6 linked regions of the Homo sapiens genome follow. The protein of the gene in region 4 interacts with the protein of the main gene of each other region in a pairwise test. Each region holds a gene or a part of one and is shown on either strand. Other genes may lie near its edges.

Region 1 (3,500 bases), about 61 Mb from region 4:
CAGTGAAAGAATCCAGTGCTAAAACAGCATTTATGCTGTCTGAGATATAGTAAAATCTCACAAGACAAATTTAAAGTAATATTTCTGCCACACACCTGCTTTGTTAGCTGTAACAGCCTCCAGATTTTATATAAATTAGTTTAAAAACATGGGTGGGTGGGGAGGAATAGGATAAGGTATCTTTTTTAACCACTCAATTTTAGCAGCTTTAATTTTTTAAGAAACTGAACCTCTATCCTGTAATGTTAGATATTTTATATATACTTTTTCAGCAGGATAAAAAACGTAAAACACTATTTGAAGGCAAGAACATTTACTCCTCTCATTCTGTGTAAGTTAGAGCAATGCAGCAGGTGCGTGACAAAAATATTATATACTAGATATGGTCCAAAGTCATTCCATTTGCTTGTTTAGTGATGTTCAAATTTCATTGGCCAGTTCTTCAGCTTCTGCAGAACTATCTCCATTAACTGTGATCTTCATATCCTCTTCATATCCAGGAGGCATGAAAGCCAAAGCATAAGGGAAAAGCTTATGACAATTTGCTCTATAAATTTCAGCAGCTTCTTTACAGTCTCCTAGGCTACCATCATACAAGGCTTCCAATACCTCCATACATGTCTAAGGAAAGAAAAAAAGTCATGTTGTAACTGGTCAAAAAAAGGTTCTTACTGGGAATTTATTAGACATTTCAACAGCAAGAGATTTCTAAAATAAGAAATAAATACACATATTTAGCTATTTACTCCTGCATATGCATTCTATTAGAATGTTCTTCAAGGCCTAATTTAACCATTTCTCCAGAATTGCAGGATTTATACAAAAGGCTAAACAGGGATGACTGCAGAAACAGGAATGGGACTATGGTGAGGCAAGCAAGGTATATGGAGTGCTACATTTAAAAAGCCACTCACTCTCAGCAAGCGTATGACCTTAGGCAGCAATGTTACCTCAGCCTAGCCTGGCCCTGGGTATAAACATCTAGATTTACAATGCCAATACCAATTACTGCACATATGCCTTCTAATATTTTTGAAAGCTTAGAGCCAGCCAGCAAACTCAAACACTGTATTCAACATTGTGTTCAAATTAAAGAGCAACTTAAGGCACATCCAATAACTAAGCAGAAAAGAGTGTCTCAAACATGAAGTGATTATTTGCAAGAAAAATTAGTTCATGAAAATGAGTAATTCTTTCAACCAAACCCCTAAGTAAGTCTGCTTCTTATCTTTTTTGTTGATTCATGTTGATTTGCATTTCTCATGTTTGCTTTCTTAATATTTTCACTTAGAAAAGCTACTTAGTTTCCACATGCAAAAATCCCTACAAACTTTGCCAGGTTACAAAGCAACTTAAATCCAGGTTACAAAGGACCTAGATTAGAACTTTAAATCCAGGTTCTAATCTAAATGGTAAAACAAACAAGTCTAATTTTTCTTTCTTAAAGATACTGCCTTCATTTGCTATTAAATGAATATATTTATTAATAACTGTCTTTCAGCATATACATGTTTATCTGGCAAATTATAACATGAGGTAGCTATCCCTTTGTTTCTAGTTTAAACTACAGTATTTTACAATACACCCATATTAATTTTTATTTAACTTAATCTCATATTGTATTACAAGTTACAAAATAAGTATTTTTATTTAGCCCCTAGTAAATACATCTTTCTTTATTTTGAGATAGGGTCTTGCCCTGTTGTCCATACTGGAGTACAGCGTCACAATCACAGCCCACTGCAGCTCCAACCTTTCAGGCTCAAGTGTTCCTCATATCTCAGTCCCCCAAGTAGCTGGGAATACAGTGCCACCACATCTGACTGATTTTTTTTTTTAAGAGATGGGGTCTCACTATGTTGCCCTGGCTTGTCTCGAACTCATGAGCTGCAGTGATCTGCCCACTTTGGCCTGCCAAAGTGCTGGGAATATAGGCCATGAACCAAAACGCCTAGCCAAAATACATTTTAAACATGTTAGAATCTCCACTGAGACCACTGCTTGCTCAGAAATGCAGAGATATGAAATGAAATCCAAAAATGACGATGGAATGTATATGATTTTATTAAAACATATTTCTTAAAAAGTTATTCCAAGCTACAGATGTGAAACTAGTTACTGAATGCCAAGCAGCCTAAATAAATTTTAAGATAAGTTGTTTCTGACCCAGATTCATAATGATTTAAAAAACAGTGTGTATAAATACCCAATTATTTCTCTTGGTGAAAAAAGTAGTTAAGTATTCTTACAGAGAGATTATGAAAAACTCTTTACCTGGAGGTTTCTGTTAGTGAGAGATTCATCAAGTGTTGTTGCCAACTCTATAGCTCGCTTCTGACTAGAAGGATCTAAGTAATATACCATTTTGGCAGCTAAATGAGAGGGAAATAGGAAATTTATTTCAAGGTAAAACCAACATCTTATCCTCTACTTATTTAAATATAAAAGGCAAACAAGATATATATGCAGAGGGTGTGGCACTTTATTAGAAGAATGGGAACAGCTACTTGAGATACTGTTATTCAAAAAATAATAATGCTAAGGGGATTAGCTTAACCATCCAAAGAAAGAGAACAATAGAGGTATACCACATATATCTACCCAATAAAATAGAATGTATATGCAACACATGCACAGTAAAGGAGACTATGAAGAAACACAAGCATTCTAATAATACTTGTATTTTTGTGGTAGGACCATGATAGTCTTCTTTCTGAAATAAGCAGAATAATGTGGAGGTTGGGGGACTATCCTATCTCAACAGTGTGAGCCAAAATGCTGAATTCAGGATTCCACAAAGGTATACAAAGCTGCTGGGCTTAAGCCAAGTATTTGAAAAGTACTACCCACATGGTCCCATAAAGGTCAGATTTTGGCTCATTGGCACAGACCCTTGACTTAGATTTCTCACAAACTGTGAAGATAATTTCAGGTGTTTAGCACTGTCAACTCTGATACCTACATAAGAATGAGAAATGGAAGACGATGGTCCTATCTGAGTGAATTTTAAGAGCCCAATGATGAAAAAAGAAATAAAAGAAAGCTCTACCTTCATTTTATGATATACATTTAAGTTTAGTTACACCTGCTTCTTTGTAATGCCAATGCTGAACCAGAAGAGACCACTGACTTTGATTTGTAGTGATTATTTTGCCGTAAGAAATTAAAAAATGTATAGGAAGCGCATATATATATAATATATATTATATATATATATATATTATATATATATATGTTTGGTTTTGTTTTGATTTGAAACAGGGTATCATTATGTTGCCCAGACTGGCCTCAAATTCCTGGGCTCAAGTGATCCTTCTGCCTCAGCATCCTGAGTAGCTGGGACTACCGGTATGTGCCACTGTGCCCAGCTTAGGAAGCTTATTTAAGCTGCCTGTTTTCATACGATCACAATGTAACATATACACACTGCCTCTTCCATTCTAAAAACATGTACCTTATATTATTGTTGATTCATTAAAATTACTGAAGTTGTTTTAGAA
Region 2 (3,500 bases), on a different chromosome or scaffold from region 4:
CATTTTGGACCATAAAGTGGAAGTCATATGCTGAGAACGGCAAACCCACAAAGTAGAAAGAACTTGGATTCTGACACTGGAACACCATATTAAGTTTGGAATGTCTACTTTTGGACTTCTTTTGCATGAGAGAGAAATGCATTTTTTGTTTTGTTAAGCTAGTGTGGGGGGATGTGTGTTCCTGTCTCTTGCAGGAACAACTAGTACAGTGTGTACCCTGTTTGGGAATTGCAAGTAGTTCAGTATGGCTAGGATACAGAGAAAGAGCTGGAAGAGATCAGAGAAATGTAGACAGAGGCCAAGCCAGGGAGCTTAGGATTTCTTCAGTAGGTTATGGGGACCAGGAAAGGGTTTTAAGTAAGGAAGATCTAAACATGCTAGAGTTCTGAATTAGTGTTTTTAGAAAAAAGAAGACCACAAAGAAGCTCCTGTTGTCACCTAAGAAATAATGGAGTAAAGAAAAGAAGTTACAATTGTCGGCTGTAGATGTGAAGACTAATTGAATGTTGAGAGTGAGGGAAAAAGGGGACCAAGGGGACTCCTGGACCTCAGGCCATTTCCTGCATAAGAACAGAGAAAAAGGAACAACTGGTATATGCCTGTGGGAGTAAGGTGGGGTGGAAATTTGAAGTTCAAGGATGAGGGCTGGGCTCACTTGAGGTCAGGAGTTCAAGACCAGCCTGGCCAACATGGCGAAACCCTGTCTCTACCAAAAATACAAAAATTAGCCAGGCGTGGTGGCAAGCACCTGTAATCCCAGCTACTTGGAAGGCTGAGGCAGGCGAATAGCTTGAACTCAGGAGGCAGAGGTTGCAGTGAGCCAAGATCGTGCCACTGCACTCTAGCCTGGCGACAGAGCGAGACTCCGTCTTGAGAAAAAAAAAAAAAAAGAAGAAGTTCAAGGATGAGACTACTGGCCAGGAGTTCCCTGGCTGACAGGCCATAAGAACTAAGAACAGAACCCACATCTTGTAACTTTTAAGTACTGTCCTCCTTCCACTGGGAACGTTGTAACTTAACAACAGCCCTTCAGGTCTATAGTCCAAGGGCAGAGCAGGCTTCCTGCTAGATGGGGATTTGTAAGATAGACGTGACTGAGCTGGTGACAGGGAGGCCTGAGGACAGAGGGCCAGTACTCCCTATCCTCATCCACCCTATTCCCCTGAAAACAGCTGTTATATTAAAAGCAAAGTGTCTTTTCTTTAGCTATGCTTCTTTCTATGCAGAGTACTGATGCCAGGTGATATATACATACTCATGAGGAATAGCAATAACTGGGATTTTTAAAAAATGTCTCCCCCTGCTATAGCCCCTTTCCAGCAATTTTGAGTATGCAAAGCAGGAGGCCAGCAACTCCTGGCTCCCTGAGACTTTCCCAGCTGTGGCTTCACCGTCCTCAGAAATTCCAAGAGATGCACGAAGCTTTCTTCTTTACAATATGTGAAAACAACAGACACCATTTAATGATGCTTACTACATGCTAGGTACTGTCATACCTCAACTCAGTTTATCTTCACAACAGCCCTAGGAAGTAAGTGTTAATATGTTCATTTTATGATTAAAGAAATAGAGATGCTAAATGCTAAGTAACTTGTCCAAATTACACAGTCAGTAAGTAAGAGAGTCTGAATTGGATTCTTAGGTCTAGCTCCAGAGACCACACTTCTTTTTTTTTTTTTTTTTTGAGATGGAGTCTCGCTCTGTTGCCCAGGCTGGAGTGCAGTGGCACGATCTTGGCTCACTGCAACCTCCGCCACCCAGGTTCAAGTGATTCTCCTGCCTCAGCCTCCCAAGTAGCTGGTACGACAGACATGTGCCACCACACCCAGCTAATTTTTTGTATTTTTAGTAGAGATGGGGTTTCACTGTGTTAGCCAGGATGGTCTTGATCTCCTGACCTCGTGATCCACCTGCCTCGGCCTCCCAAAGTGTTGGGATTACAGGCATGAGCCACCACACCCGGCCCAGAGACCACACTTCTAACCTATGTGCTATAATGCCTCACATAATGTGGGCAGGGTAGGGTACCACAGCTCTTGGGGAAGGACGTCAGAGAACACTGGATAGGAGTATGGAGTGTCAGGAGAATTTGCTTCTTGCCTGAGTTGTAGTATGTCACAGCTGGATGATACTCAAGGTATTAAATTCAGACCCATCATTTTCCAGATGGGTAAACTGAGGCCCAGAGAGACAAGAGAATTGTCTAAGGCTACGATGAGTTTGTGGCACAGTTAGAACCAGAGCCCAGAGGCAGGCTCCTAACAGATATTCTTTCTGCTCCAGCAGGACTACACCCATAAAACCATCAGACATTCAAATAAGCAAGCACACCATGAGGGTCAGGTCACCCTCAGTCTTCCTGTATCCAATGGAAAAACAGCCATTCACTTGAGCTACTTGAGATGAATGAGACAGTAATCCATGAAAATAGAAACAGGTGAAGATGAATGATAGTTTTATCCAGAGAAGAGAAACAGAAAGTGGCTGGGGCTGGGATCTGGTTGAGGGATAAGGGAGAAGCCAGCAAGCACTCCCCTCCTGGAACTTTACACATGGCTCTGAACTCACCCACATTAACACCATCTATATGAAGTTCAAAGATTTTCTACCAAAAAAAAAAAAAAAAAAAAAGGTTGCCTTGCCAGGTGCAGTGGCTCACACCTGTAATCCCAGCACTTTGGGAAGCTGAGGTGGGCAGATCACTTGAGGTCAGGAGTTCGAGATCACCCTGGCCAACATAGTAAAACCTCGTCTCTACTAAAAATACAAAAATTAGCCAGGCGTGGTGGCGGGCACCTGAAATCTCAGCTACTCAGAAGGCTGAGGCAGGAGAATCGCTTGAACCCCGGAGGCAGAGGTTGCAGTGAGCCAAGATCGCACCACTGCACTCCAGCCTGGGTGACAGAGACTCTGTCTCCAAAAAAAAAAAAAAAAAAAAAAAAAAGAAAGAAAGAAAGAAAAGAAGATTGCCTTAAAACTGGATGGGGAATTGGAAGCATGGGTTCCAGTCCTGCTCTGTGTCTAACTCACTCCATGGTATTAGATGGACCATGTCACATCTCCTGGCCTCAGGTGCCTTATTTAGACATAACCACCTTGTAAGGCCCTGCTGAGGGGACCAGCTGTTCCTGGAAGAATAAAGCTGTTCTCAAACGCCTGTACTTACCTGCAGGGGGAGTGTGACCTGGGTTTGGAGATCCTCTTAGGGGGCAGGGGAGGAGTTCATGCTGAGAATAAGTCATTGGCAGAGCAGCAGAGCCCTGGGGAACATCTGCCAGGAAAAGGCTACACCAGGGCATGGAGTGCTGCTGCTCAAGACACTGTTTAAAGTAACCTTCTCAGTTAGAAAGTAACAAATACTCACTGGGGACAGTTAGAAAATGCAAGAATAGAAACACACACACACACACACACACACACACACGCACGCACGCACATCTTCAGATATTACCACTGTGCATATTTTGGACTTTTTTCTTCTCAAATCTGTTTTCCCTCTG
Region 3 (3,500 bases), on a different chromosome or scaffold from region 4:
AGGAGGTTACGTACAGTTCTGACAGCTTGAACCTTAAGGTTGGAGGACAGAATAGATCACCTAGGGAACAAGTTTAAGAAGAATTTGCAGTGGTGTCTTTTCCGAATGGACAGCTTACCCAGGCCCTGGAAGGAGCATGAAGTACACCCCACGACAAATGTCCCATGGTGGTTAGACCTGGCAAAGCCCTTTCATTCCTTCTGGAGAATGGTAGTGGCATTGGCAGTGGCTGAGACCCTCTCTTCGTCTCTAAGAGGGTAGAAGGCTGGCTTTCAGGGGCAGCTGATCAGTATTAGTGTGGTGTCCTGTGTAACCTAGCTTGTAATGAAGCACTATTGGGACCTAACCCAATCTTAAGCTCTTTTCCTTTTCCCCCACGCCATAGTCCTGTGCTGTGAGCTCACCATGACTTCCTATGACCTAGACTGTGGCCTTGAATTTTGACTGCTTTGCATCAGAGAGGCTGTGGGAGCCTGCTTGAGTCAGGAGGGTTCCTGCAATAACATCCTAAGGAAGAAATAAAGTTTACATAATGTAGTGCCCAAATCAATTAGGTATAAGAGGAGGTCAGTCAGTGCCTTAACTAGTTCTTGTGTTGCTAGGCCAAATGGGATCCCAGCTCACTGTCATGCTTTATCTCAGCTGTCCATTTGTGCTTTGTTTTAGTTTTAAAATGATTAGCACTAGAGAAACCTATCAGTAAATCAGAAACCTTTAAAAAACTCAAGTGTACACTTAGTGTTTTAGTAGATAAAACTTTCAGGCCCAAACCTGTCTTCCTGACAGCAGTCAGCACTTGGTGAAGGAACAGCCTTCTGGTTGTCACTCTTAAGATTCATTAGTTAATTTCAATGGTTTTTCCCACTTAGTATAAGTAGGGAACATTTCTATTTTAAAATTTCTTCCCATAACCTGATGTTTATATTTTGGGTGTTACCCCTGCTTTGAGGGCAGCCTCTTATCACTGTTGTTCACTTTTCTCAGTACATGGTATCTTTGCTCCCTTTAATAAATCTGTTGTGAGACGGTCATTATGACACTTTATTTCTTTTTGGTCATTAGGACTGTTATTACTGAGTCACAGAGAGTCAGGGCCCATTCCTAGAGCATTATTCTCTATGTTCCTAGAGGGTGCTTTTAAACTAAAACACTAGTTATACTGCACTAGCTCATTTCTAAGATACATTCTTTTTCTGATTTCAGAAGCCCAGATGGATCTTAAAAATTATGAACACATTTAGGCCAGGTGCAGTGGCTCACACCTGTAATCCCAGCGCTTTGGGAGGCTGAGGCGGGTGGATCACCTGAGGTCAGGAGTTCAAGAGCAGCCTGACCAACATGATGAAAACCTGTCTCTACTAAAAATACAAAAACAAATTAGCTGGATGTGGTGGTGGGCACCTGTAATACCAGCTACTCGGGAGGCTGAGGCAAGAGAATTGCTTGAATCTGGGAGACGAAGGTTGCAGTGAGCCGAGATCGTGCCATTGCACTCCAGCCTGGGCAACAAGAGTGAATCTCCATCTCAAAAAAAAAAAAAAAGAAAAGAAAAAAAAAGTATGAACGCATTTAATGTGCAGTTTTTTTTTCTTCTGTAACCTAGTATGTTAGTGTAGTGACTATCAATTGATGACATCCTCAAACAAAGCAAGGTTAGTTCCTTATTCTGGTAGAAAATATGGTTTCTACTCAATGCTGTCCAGCTGATTGAATTGCTGAGCAGTTAGCTCAGCAGTTCCGAGAATATGTTGGGTAAAGTGCTGTTGGGGTGGGTATTAATCAGTTTGCTCTTATAAAGGGCAAATCCATTTGGGAAGCACTGCCTATTATTTTTTTTTCCTCTTGTAGAGATTCTCAACATGGGCATCATTATATCAAAGACTATGAGAAGTACTATAGTTAACTATATCAACGACAAAAACTTGGTTACATTTATTCAAGTCAGCGTTTCCCAGAATACAGAATTTTCTGAGGTTATATATGTATCTTTTAGGACTCCATTACTGAGTTAGCACAAACCACAATTTTAATATGTGATTTAATATTGTGGGTGGGATGGTTTCACCTAGTATATCCCGAAAATATAGGGACATTCATTAAGTATGGCTATTAATTAATTAACTCTATAAGTGGTTACTTATTTTTTATTTCAGAGTAGAGAAGAACATTTTAAGCTGTAGTGGCTAAGAAAGTCTCCACGAAGGAGCTGGACTGTGATAATATAAATGGTGGGTAGCACTCTTTGATAGATAAGGGACATTTTAGGTTGGAGGGATAATGAAGCAGGAGTAAAGACTTGCATTTGTGCCTGCATATAAATAATTTTCAGAGCATACAACAAAATGGATTGTGCCCAGCACAGTGCGAGATTTACTGAATCTGTGGTGGTGGTCAAAGAACCTATTAAGCCCAGGCTTGGTTGCTCATGCCTGTAATGCCAGCAGGTCAAGGCTGCAGTGAGCCCTGATCGTGCCACTGCACTCCAGCCTGGGCAACAGAGTAATATCCTGTCCCAAAAACAAAACAAAAAGTTTTTTGATTCTGTAAATTCGTTGAAATAGCAGATGAGTTATAGAGAGGACTGGACAGCTGGTTGCAGGAGTGGAGGCGCAACACTCAGGATGAAAGCAGTCAGGGGTGCCTGGAACTGGACGGGGGCATGGAAGTGTTCCTGTGCCATTAGTCATTAGGGGGATGCAAATCAAAACCACAGTGAGATGCCACTTCACACCCACCAGGACGGCCAGGTGGAGAATGTGGAGAAATTGGAAGCTTCCTACATTAGATTGCTGGTGAATATGTAAAACCGAACAGCCACTTGGGAAAACAGTTTGGCAGTTCCTCAAAATGTTAAATATTGGCTTCCTAATGACCAATTCCCCTCCAAGATAGATACACAAGAGAACTGAAAACATGTTCATGAAAATATGAATATTCATAGCAGCCGTATTCCTTTTTTTTTTTTTTTTTTTTTTTTGAGGCAGAGTCTCATTCTGTCTCCCAGGCTGAAGTGCAGTGGCACAATTTCTCCTCACTGCAGCCTCGACCTCCCAGGCTCAAGCAATCCTCCCACCTTGGGTTCCCGAGTAGCTGGGACTACAGGCATGTGCCACCACCTCCAGTTAATTTTTTTTATTTTTGGTAGAGATAGAGTTTTACCATGTTGCCCAGGCTGATCTTGAACTCCTGGGCTCAAGCAATCCACCTGCCTTGACCTCTGGGATTACAGGCATGAGCCACTGCGCCTGGCCAGCAGCCTTATTCTTAATAGCCCTAAAGTGGAAACAACCCAAATATCCATCGGCTGCTGAATGGATAAACAAAATGTGGTACATCCATGCAAGGAAAACTATTCAAACATAGAAAGGAACAAAATGTTGATTCATGCTACAACATTGATGTACCTTGAAAACATGCTATGTGAAAGAAGCCAGATACAAATGACCATGTATTTACATGATTCCATTATGAAGTGTACGCAATAGGAAAATCCACAGTGA
Region 4 (3,500 bases):
TAGACAAAATTGTCCTAATTCATCCACCCCAATTCTTACTTTAGAAAAGTAGTTCAAGAAATCCATTCGTTTCTGTCTCCCTCTCTACCATACCCGCCCCACCATCTGTCTCTTGCACATGTGCACACACATGCATGCATGCATACACACACACACACACACACACACACACACACACACACACACACACAGAGGTTGGGAGGCATTCTATAGCAAACTGCATACTTTAGCTCTCTTTTGAGATGCAGTGTACAAGTATGCTACTGATGCTGCTGTTTCTCCTGCTCAACTCTGAGCCAAAGCTTATAGACACCTTTTCTCAGCTAATGTTTCAAATCCTTAAACAGCATTGTATGAGAACTTCAGTGTTCATGTAACAGAAGTCTAACAGCTCCTACCTCCTAGGTATCTAAAAACATTAGGAGGCATTGATGATGATTCTTAGTTACAAGATGCTAAAGCACGTGCCATTTTGTATAAGTTTAAGAAATTTTGTACCAAAGTTATTTAATTTATAACGCTACTAACCAATATGTCTCAATAGCCAAAATATACTATTACCAACTATGTTACGGTAACAGTATGTATACTATATATCATCTTAAAATACATATATGTAAAAATGTTTATACCTATTTAAATTAAATTATACAACCTTTATGAGTAAACAGTAAAATTAATCAAAGGTAATAACATGTAAATAGAGAAAGTCTACAAGGATTTTTTTTTAACTGCTGAAGTCACTTGTTAGGGTGTTGTTTATACTTACATTACCAAAAATGCCTTTACATACAAGCCAATAATATCCTTAGCCCTAAATGCTGTTAGATGTTGCTACACCTTACCTACAAATAGCAGTTAGCAGAATTAACTGAGGAAACGGAAGGATGGGGATGCCAAGGGACCAGAAGACAGGACTAGGAAGAGAGAATGGGTGGCTCTACAGAAAGATAAATTCTAAACTAATTTAAGAGAACTTAATGACCGACCATTCAACGATGACTTCCACTTCCACAATAATTTCCTTTGCTTTCACTGGAAAAATACTTGCCTATTGGCACTATAGGAGGAGTCCATTATGGTTCCAACCTGAGCTGGAAGTGATGAAGTGTAGGAAACTAAGGCTGGTGAGAACTCTTGAGGGGAGGTAAGATATTCAGGTGATGCCTGTTGTTGAGACGGCTGATGTTGAGCTAGCATCTGCTGTTGAAAGAAAGCCTGCTGATACTGCGGCATCTGAAAAAAGAAATGATATTATACAAAACAATGCTCCAGTCCTAAAGCACTGTCAGCACTGCATCTATTTACTATGTTCCTTCCTTTCACATTGGTGACAAAATCAGAAACGTAAAAAACAATCATCTACAGAAGCAGCTCTATTACTAGAAAACTACAGCAAGATGAAATAAATCTTTTTAAAAAGTTGTAAAGGTAGGCTCACTTGGCCAGAATCAAAAATCCTCTTTTAAGTATTTTAAGAAAAAGAGTAGCTTAAAGTCACTAATATAGTGGTTGCTGTTAAAAAAAAAAAAAAAAAAAAAAAAAAGGTCAAATTATTCTCTGAAGAAAATATACTCTCCCTTTGGGTTTCATTTTTTTACTCAATAGATATGTGCTGAATGAAAGAGACATGTGACGAAAGACTATAGGTAAGACATCATTTCCCTTATATAATGACATAAGAGAAGTACGTTATCGGTCAATTACTATGTGCCATATTCAGGTGCCATAGTTCAGTGCAATTTAAAGCTGCTTGAGAATATATGACTGGCTTTGATAAAATACATGTCAATTAACTTACTTGATTTTGAATTACTAAATTCTGAATAATATGATTCATACTGTGAATTCCAACACCATAATGTATACTCAGAGAAATCTCTAGAAATTATTTAAGTTACCATTGTAGGATACTGTGATGCAGAAGGTTGTGGTTGATATACCGAATGCATTAAAAATTGTTGTTGAAGCATCTGTTGCTGCTGTGTTGCATGTTGATACTACAACGAGAAAATCAAATTAATAAATGTTATGCCTTTTTTGTGTCAGAGCCCTTTTTTAAAGTATTGATCTTACCATAATGATTTGAGAAATCAGTAGTCCAAACATCAATACAAAATAGCTATACTCTAAATTACTATAATTTATTAATAAATATGCTTATCAGAACTGGTTTCAAAATTATCAACAATTAGATTCAATTAAAACCATTTTTAGCACAATTTAAGGATGTTTAGAAGAAAGCTACCAAAACACATTTACTACCTTTTCCTAGAAGATAAAGACACCTGAGTGACTTCTAACCAAGCCCCATTACACTAAATCTCCCCTTCAGTGGTGTCTTCTGGGCATCCCATGGTACCACCTACTTACTACCCTCCACTCTGGATCTATCAACCAAAACCAGGAGGGTGACAAAAATCTAAGACAATGTTACTTCTGAAAAGCCTAATATCACCTTTCCAACAATAGCATTATTAGTCTGTGAACTCAAAACGTAACCTCAGATAATATTCATTATAAACTGCAGTGCTTATTTGTGAATACTAAATGTTTCAGATGAACATTCTTTTCTTCATAAGGCCACAATGCAACCTATTTTACAGTATTCTTAAGTATTTCACTGATTGCAAATTAAATACGTATTCTTTCATAATTAGAAAATTGGGGAAAGTGTTTACTCAAATCTAGAGTTCAAGGTGCCCATGATACAAAAAGGAATTCACTGATATTCAATTTGCTGCATCAATTTCACACTACTTCCATATCTAAAGAAACAAAAAAATTACCTGCTGCATATAAGCATCTTGAAGTAGGTGGTGGTGGTGGTGGTGGTGGTGCTGCTGCTGCTGCTGCTGCTGCTGCTGTTGCTGTTGCTGCTGCTGCTGTTGCTGTTGCTGCTGCTGCTGCTGCTGCTGCTGGTGAGGATGACGATGCTGTAAATGGAGTTGCTGTAATCTCCAATCTCCCTGCTGTAGTTGCTGGAGTACTCTATGCTGCTGTGGCGGCTGCTGAGGAGGTCCCTGACCCAATAAAATTTCAGGGCCATTTCCAGGTCTTAGTGCCCCTAAAGACAGGTCCAAACACTTACATTAACATACTAATGATTTCAATTAAAAAGCTGGATTTCAACATGCTCATTTCAATAATAATTTAACTAAGGCATTTATATCCTTATTTATAACACAAAAACTTCCATATGCATAGAGTTTATAGGGATTTACTTTAATTGTAAGTACCGAAGAAGCTTAATTTTGTCGTCTACAACTCTGAACAAGTCAACATCTTAGAAACACTTCATGTTTCATACTTCGGCTCTCCATGAACACAACATCCATGTTAGTTTGTTCTACACTGCTCAACAATATCATGTACTATCATGAGTATGTATTAGTACCAATATAATTCTCTGTCTAGAATGCCACTTTCCACCTAGTGAAATTCTTATTCTTTAAAGTTTAGCTCAAACCTCTCTTCCTTATTCCTTCATCTAGCACTTC
Region 5 (4,033 bases), on a different chromosome or scaffold from region 4:
GCTAAGGATGGGGAGGAGGCCTGGGTTCAACTACAAGGGAGTCTCATATCACCAGGGTGAGTCCAGGATGAGGAGGGACCTGGCCCTGCCCTGAGCTGAAGGCCCTGCTCCCCCAGCCCCAGGGAGGGGGCTCCATCCTACCTGTGCCTTCTCCTTGGAAGACAGTCACAGTCAAGTTCTGAGGAGGGTCTGGGACAGAAAGACATGGAGACCTGCATCACTGTGAGGGCTGGGGACACTGGCCCTGTCTCCCCAGGAGCTGCATAAATGGGGAAGGCGGAGCCAGCGTCCTCCTGATCCCACAACCAGCCCAGATTCTGGGACCCAGCACCCAGTGTCGAGCCCTGACCCCATCCTCTGCCCTCAGGGACGTCCCCCCCTCATCAGGGACCAGGGCGTCCTGGCTCAGCACTCACAGGACACATTGAGTTGGATGGTCCTGTTCGTGGTCACGCCGGCCCCAGGCAAGGTCACCTGACAGGTGAGGCTGGTGCCGTGGTGCTGGGGCTGTGGGATGAGGGTGAGCACTGAGGAGCGGGTGGTGGAGGGGTGCAGGGGGGACACAGAGGTCCCCATCCAGGAGATCATAGGGGGCGTCCCCTGCTCACAGGCCCAGGGCACAGAGCAGGTCAGATTCTGGAAGCAGCCAGACTCCAGGGTACCGGGGATAAGGATGTTGGGCCTGTGGGTCAAGGCTGGTGAAGAGAGGGGGACTCAGGATCAGGACAGAGGATCCATGGTACAGCCCTGGGGGAAGCTCAGGCTCTGGTTCAGCTTCTGCCCTGAGCCCAACTCGCTTCACCCTCAGCCCTCTCCCAGGGCAGGGGCCCCATCCCAGGCTTTCGCTGCCACCCCCATGACCTTTCCCTGTGGTGTCTCCTGGAGCCTGTGCCTTATCTGTCACATTCACAGAGAGCTGCTTCGTTTTGTAATTCCATCTTATCTGTCCTCTCTCCACCTGGAAGTAGTAGTTCCTCAAATCCCCCTTCCTGGCATCTCTGATGCTCAGGGAGCAGTTGTTGGTCTTCAGGTCCCCAAGGAGGTGGAATCGGCCCCGTGTCTCCTGCACTTTTCCATTTGGGATGTTTGTGGCCACTGGATTATTCCATTGTATATTGATCCCTTTCTTAAACCAGCATCCATGGACAGGGCTAGAGTCAGTTCAGTTGTAATAGGGTTAAAGGACACTGCAGGGCACAGAGACGCACTAGCCCTCCTGCACCATCACCAACTCCAGCACCTCCAGCCTGTATCTTGACAGTGGGGCCTGGGACGCTGTGGGGAAATGAGGCTCAGCCCAGCCCCGACTGTCCCTCTCTTCATTTGCCCACAAGAGAGGCAGCAGCATCTCTGAGACAGAGGGTTCCTGGGCTCCTTGTGTGAGCAGAGAAGTGGGAGGGAGAGGAGGGGCAGGGCTGTGGGACCCACAGGGGGCTGGAGAGGGGCTGGAGAGGAGCTGGAGACCTCAACCCAGCACGAAAGAGAAACTACAAACCCACATGCTATAGGAACTGGTTCCCTCTGCACAGAGTGAAGGAAACCCTGAAGCTCAGAGACCCTAGAGACCCACCCAGGGAGGAGAAGAGACCGTGTCCCACCTCCTACCTCCGGGCTTCCCTGGAGCACCAGGGCCTGCACCAGACACGTAGGTCCTGCCCTCCCGGCCTCTGGACCATCGTGGAGGTCCCTCCTGTCTTTTGAGCATCTAAATGTGGATCTCCGAGGACCTCAGGGCATGAGAGATGGAGGGGCCGTGTGCTGAGTCTCCCTGTCCAGGCTCAGGTGCCTCTGCTGCCCTTGGTTTGCGCCAGGAAGTGCTTCCTCCCTGGCCTGGCCTGAGAGAGTCACGGGGTTGTGTAGACCTAAGGCTCTCAACTGGGGAGGACTTAACCCCCCAGGACGTTTAACAATGTGTGGAGATAATTGTTATTGTCTCACTGCATGGGTGGAGTGGGTGCTTCTGGCATCTGGTGGGGAGAGGCCTGGGATGGTGCTAAACCCCGGCCATGCCTAGGACAGGCCCCAAAACAAGGAGTCATAAGGCCCCACATGCCACAATGCCAGCGTCAGAGGCAGGATGAGGATGTCAGGCCTGTGGGTCAGGGCTGGTGAGGGGAGGGGCCTGCAGGATCAGGAGGGGCATCCAAGGTGCGGTCCTGGGGAAGCTCAGGCTCTGGTCCAGCTCCTCTCCTGAGTCCATCACCCCCGGCCCCCTCCCAGGACATGTGTCCCGTCTCAGCCGTGCCCTAAAGCCCTCATCACATTTGCCTTTGGCCTCTCTTGGAGCCCGTGCCTTACCTGTCACGTTCACAGAGAGCTGGTCATATTTATAATTCCATTTTATATTTCCTTTCTCCATACGAAAGAAGTATCTCCCCGCATCACTCATTCTGGCATCTCTGATGCTCAGGGTGCAATTTTTGGTCTGTGGGTCCCCAAGGAGGTGGAATCGGTCCCGAGTTTCCTCCTGCACTGCCCAAGCTGGGTTGTTTGTGGCCACTGGAGCCTTCCAGCTTATATCATTCCCTGCCCGGAACCAGTAGCCATGAACTGGGTCAGAGTCAGTCTGGCTGTCCACTGGGTAGGAGAAGGAGCAGCGCACATGGACACACATGCCCTCTTGCACGGTCACGGAACTCTGCATCGTCAGCGAGTAATCCTTCCGGTTACTCTTCTGTCCTTCCACCCTCTCCCTCCCCCAGAGCAGGGGCAGCAGCAGCAGCAGCAGCATATCTGGGGTTGGAGGTGCCAGGGCCGCGAGGGAACGTCTGTTCCTCAGGGTTCTTCTCTCAGGAACTGCGGGCTCAAGACTTAGAAGAGGCCCTACAGGAAGTCGGTGGTGAGGTCAAAACAGTGACCTCCTTAGAAGAAGAACTTCACACACAGACACTGTCAGGGCTGGGTCAGCCCTGGGAGATCCACCGTCCACCACCCGACATTCACTCCTGGGTCCCTGAGGCCAGAGCGGGAGACAGACTCACCCAGATTCCCACCCCATGCAGGGCCCACCCCACCTCCTGCCTCCCTCTCAATGCCTTTCCCTTTAGGTGATATTTTCTGCAGGGTGAAAATAACTCCCATCTGCCCAGACCCCTGAGTCACAGGCTGTGGATGTCTGCGTAGCTCAGAAGTGGGACTCGGGGCCATGAGAGACAGGGGTGCAGGTGGGGTGAACAGGCAGCCTCTCATCCCTCCCTCAGCAGCCACGAGGTGGGCACCCCCTTTCTGCACAATGAGGTCAACACAGCAGAGCCGGACACTGTCCCCAAGGAGTCACTGTGTGGTGGGGAGACACTGAGTCTCCTGACGTTTGAGCTCCCCATGACAGGAGCTTCAGTGGGGGGCACAGGCAGGGTGGGGTCACTCTCCCCTAGGTCGGGGGTTCAGTCTCAGGAGGACCGAGCAGACGGACATGGGGCTGTGAAGGTGAGGATTGCGCCTGTTGATACACGCCAAGGACACGGAGGGGAGCCCAGCCTGCAGGAGGCCGGGGAAGCTGAGGCTGTGATTGTTGTATTGTGGGGCTTGGTAGACAGGAAAGTCATAAGGGAAAGGATCAATATGAAAAGAGCAGACACTATTCCCATCCTCACAGCTCTCTGAGCACAAGGACATTTCCCTTCACCACTGCTATCTCATGAGGCCTGGTTAGTGCAGAGTGTGAGGGGTCTGCTGGCCCTGGGGCTTTGCTCCTGCAGGAACTGCTCCTAGGGGTTCAGGTGAACAGGAGACGTGGAGCAAAGACACCAGCCCCGGGGCGTCCACCCTCAGTGATGGGCGCGATTTTCTGAGAGAAGAAACACGCACCTGACTTCAACAGAAGATTATTTTAAACTGTGTGACTGGGCTGGGAGGAAGTGGGAAAAATCCTGCAAGCTGCAGCCCCCTTAGATCCAGGCCAGCTTTTCTTGAAACAGTTTTTTTTGAGCGGGGAGAAACACAAGACATGTACATAAAAGTGTCCCCTAAAAACCAACTCAGTGATTCACACAAAATAAGCACCCTTGAAGAACTAGAACACAAAAGAACTGTC
Region 6 (3,420 bases), 2.2 Mb from region 4:
TAGACACTTGTTTGTCTTTGCTTTCCATTTCTATGTGTCACATACATATATGTGTCCTCTTATAACTTTAGTCTTCAAAATTATTTCAATATCCTTCTTCTCACTATATTTATTTGTGTGATGGAAATGCTTTCAGGCCGTAGATCATTGTTGGTGTTAATCTGTGGTTAATCCTCATTTTAGTTCCGTCTTATCTGATACTTAGAAATATCTCAGCCATTTTGGAGGCTGTGCAGTATCAGAAGACGTGGAGTTTGTTCTGTCTCTGCCTGTAGCTAATTATGGTGGTTCAGTCATTTAATAAATATGTTTTGAGCATCTATTTTGTGAAAGGCACTGTGTTACCTGTGTGTCTTTAGTGTCCTCACTGGTAAAATGAAGAGGCTGGCCATGAGCTGGAAGGGTTAAGTTTATAATTCCAGCTATTTCACACCCGTCTTCCTTGAAGGAATGATAGTGATAGATATAAAAACACTGTAAGTCCCTCTTTTAATAAACTAAATGAAAGAACATCCTATACTTCGCTGTTTGTAAATTAGTATGGCATTCGCTTTGGTTTAAGTGGTATTTTATTGCAAACCCATTAAAAGAATAACTCATGAAAAGAAGCTCTTTGACACCTTGGGGTACACAAATGTTGGTGTGGGTGTGTGTTAATTCTGTGAGTGAGACACACCAGTTCTAAAAAAAATGAGTGAAGTTCTGGTGCCTGAGTTACCATGCTTTCTTCTAGTTCTTACAGTAGCATAAAATTAAAGATTCAAAGTGAGATGGAGGATAAAATTACTTTTTAATACATGTTCTCAAACATTTGAAAATAAAAGTATATGATAGAAGGGGGCCAGAGTGTGGCCACCATCCTGATCGTACTGTTTTTCAATAAAGAAAACTTTTTCATTGGTAGATTTGGTGAAATTCTAAATTTAGGTTTTTTTCTAGAGCTGTATCAACCAAAACTTCTGGCAATTCCCAGTATCACTTCTTAGCCTTCTTATATCCAAATGCCTGTTTATTACCTTTCTTAATTTGAATCAATGCCTAGTTATTACAGATTGCACCCCACAATGGCCAAAAACCCACTACATAATAAAATTTACAGGTACTAACTAGTTAAGATTATATTTTAAGTAGCAATTGATATAAAATTACAACACAATGAAAGAACTTGGGTAATCTCTTAGCAATGGAAATAGGTTTTAACCAGCAGTTTTTCTGGGTGCTTTGTAACTATCATTTTACTAATGAATTGAGGATGTATTATGGTTTAAATTGGAAGAGTTTTATTCCCAAAGAATAAAGCAAGATTATCTTTCAGTAGTAGAGATTGAAGTAAATGTATTAATATTTTAATTAATACAGATTTACTAAGAGTAGTTAGAAAATTTAGTAAGTGCCTGTTTTACAAATTGTTAGGTACTAGTTTCTGTATAATTCCTACACAGAAGCTTTAGAAATCTCCTGATATTAAATTATTAAATTGGCATTCATGAAAAGAGAAGCTACAATTATAAACTCCATTTGCTAAATCATGCATAATACTCTCTCTCTCTCTTCCCCCACAAGTAATCTCTCTACCCCATGCAGTGTGCACACACACACACACACAGTCAGTTACTGAAAAAAATAATTCTTTTTCTTTTTTTTTTTAAATGGAGTTTCACTCTTGTCGCCCAGGCTGGAGTGCAGTGGCGTGATCTCGGCCCACTGCAACCTCCACCTCCCAGGTTCAAGCAGTTCTCCTGCCTCAGCCTCCTGAGTAGCTGGGATTACAGGTGTCCGCCACCATGCCTGGCTAATTTTTTTATTTGATAAAAAGAATTCTTTTTCTCAATAACTGTTCTCTTGAATTCAAATTAAGGGACTGCCAAAGTCAATTAGAATATTTTAAAAATACTTTGTTGTAACCTGTGTAAATAATATACAATTTACAGGATTTGGGATTGTAGAACTTAAACTGGAAGACTGGATTCCTCAGATCTCAGGACTATAACATTCCAGATAAATTTTTACATTCCCTTTGCTGTATATTAACTGATGATCATTTATATGTTAAGATTTTTTACCTTAATATTTCTGAATAAAACTCTTATTGCCCATTTAATATTTTCATAGGCAATCAAATGTGAGTAATACTGCTAAGAGTCTGATTTATTAAAAATATTTGTATAATTCATTCAGTTTAGTTTTTCAGTTTAGTCTTTCTGCTTTCACTTTTCTCTGTGCTAACAAGTAACTAATGTCTGGGCATTGACTTCTTATTGAATCAAAGTTGGGTTAGGCATAGCTATGCACACCTGATGTGTAAGATTAAAGAAGAGATTAAATAAGAAATCTTGGGTAAGTTGGACTTTTCTGTATAGCTCTTTTTTCCTCTGAGTTGTATTTTAATGTAGTTTATAAGTGATAAAATGATCCTTGTTTTCTAAAAGCCAGTCCTTCCCTTCAGCTTTCCACAGTTTCTGTAAATGTTTAATACTTGTACAGTCAATGGCAATTTTAAATATATATATATATATAATATATGTATATGGAAAAGGTTCAAAGATGCTTTTAATTTATTTAATGACTATTGCCTTCCTATAATAATAATTTTCATCCTTAATTATGATAATACTTTTAGCAAGAAAAATTCCTTTTTACTACAGTTTTTAGATGCAAAATGCAGTTTGGTTCTTTAGTCAAATCCACTTAGAGGGTATATTGCAGTGAAACTGTGAAGGATACTTCACTACCAATGTATAAGCTTTGTTGAATTTGTATCATTTTCTTTCAGTAATGAAAAGCTATTCATTATACAGTATGGAAATAAAAATTGCTTCATTGACCATTCATTTTTACTTATTGGGAAATACTATATTTCCAGACATTTTCAAGTGTGCTGCATTTAAAAGAGGTAATAAAGCTTAAGCATAGAGTTGAACATTTTCAAATGGTATTCTAAATGGAGCATCGTAACTTACTCTTAACATAACATGATTATCGTTGTAAAACAAGATTGAAATATACCCATCAGGAAAAATATATCTTTCAAGCTTGAGAAACTCAACTTAAATTGTTTCATATTTTCTTTTCTTTTTTAACCAAAAACTCCACATTTTATAGTTGGAGACTTTTGTTTCTTTCTGGATGTCTGACTCACTATTTTGACAATAACTTTATTTCATCTATCATTCTTACCATGTCCTGTTCTTTTAGAATGATAACTATCTAAATTTAATTAATCTTATCATTGAGATATATTCTAGCCATTTTTTGTTTAGGCCATAGTTTTTTCTTTAAGGAAAAAAAATGACCTGAAATTAAGAAATAAAATATGCTTTTATATTATTTTTATTATTTTAATCCATCTTTGTAACACTGTGTATGTTTGCATTTTGGAACTACAAGGAAATTTTAAAGATCATCTTGAACAAGTTCCTT

Evidence for each region.
Region 1: the proteins of BMP2K (region 4) and NAA15 interact in a two-hybrid assay, tested with the Homo sapiens proteins (one large-scale study listed by IntAct).
Region 2: the proteins of BMP2K (region 4) and ST6GAL1 interact in a two-hybrid assay, tested with the Homo sapiens proteins (one large-scale study listed by IntAct).
Region 3: the proteins of BMP2K (region 4) and STXBP6 interact in a two-hybrid assay, tested with the Homo sapiens proteins (one large-scale study listed by IntAct).
Region 5: the proteins of BMP2K (region 4) and SIGLEC7 interact in a two-hybrid assay, tested with the Homo sapiens proteins (one large-scale study listed by IntAct).
Region 6: the proteins of BMP2K (region 4) and BMP3 interact in a two-hybrid assay, tested with the Homo sapiens proteins (one large-scale study listed by IntAct).

Annotation. Positions count from the first base shown.
Region 1 is NC_000004.12:139,385,005-139,388,504, reverse strand, and holds part of NAA15 (N-alpha-acetyltransferase 15, NatA auxiliary subunit), read right to left. Parts: intron 2,373-3,500; coding exon 2,275-2,372; intron 622-2,274; coding exon 421-621; 3' UTR 1-420. UniProt on the Homo sapiens protein: Auxillary subunit of N-terminal acetyltransferase complexes which display alpha (N-terminal) acetyltransferase (NAT) activity. The NAT activity may be important for vascular, hematopoietic and neuronal growth and development.
Region 2 is NC_000003.12:187,066,526-187,070,025, reverse strand, and holds part of ST6GAL1 (beta-galactoside alpha-2,6-sialyltransferase 1), read right to left. Parts: intron 1-3,500. UniProt on the Homo sapiens protein: Transfers sialic acid from CMP-sialic acid to galactose-containing acceptor substrates. In B lymphocytes, generates neuraminidase-sensitive lymphocyte cell-surface differentiation antigens, such as CDw75, HB-6 and CD76.
Region 3 is NC_000014.9:25,043,648-25,047,147, reverse strand, and holds part of STXBP6 (syntaxin-binding protein 6), read left to right. Parts: intron 1-2,207; exon of another isoform or gene 2,208-2,228; intron 2,229-3,500. UniProt on the Homo sapiens protein: Forms non-fusogenic complexes with SNAP25 and STX1A and may thereby modulate the formation of functional SNARE complexes and exocytosis.
Region 4 is NC_000004.12:78,870,350-78,873,849, reverse strand, and holds part of BMP2K (BMP-2-inducible protein kinase), read right to left. Parts: intron 3,068-3,500; coding exon 2,790-3,067; intron 2,001-2,789; coding exon 1,902-2,000; intron 1,237-1,901; coding exon 1,052-1,236; intron 1-1,051. UniProt on the Homo sapiens protein: May be involved in osteoblast differentiation.
Region 5 is NC_000019.10:51,141,068-51,145,100, reverse strand, and holds the start of SIGLEC7 (sialic acid-binding Ig-like lectin 7 isoform 1 precursor), read right to left. Parts: upstream 2,801-4,033; 5' UTR 2,732-2,800; coding exon 2,299-2,731; intron 696-2,298; coding exon 417-695; intron 190-416; coding exon 142-189; intron 1-141. UniProt on the Homo sapiens protein: Putative adhesion molecule that mediates sialic-acid dependent binding to cells. Preferentially binds to alpha-2,3- and alpha-2,6-linked sialic acid.
Region 6 is NC_000004.12:81,054,708-81,058,127, forward strand, and holds the end of BMP3 (bone morphogenetic protein 3 preproprotein), read left to right. Parts: 3' UTR 1-2,920; downstream 2,921-3,420. UniProt on the Homo sapiens protein: Growth factor of the TGF-beta superfamily that plays an essential role in developmental process by inducing and patterning early skeletal formation and by negatively regulating bone density.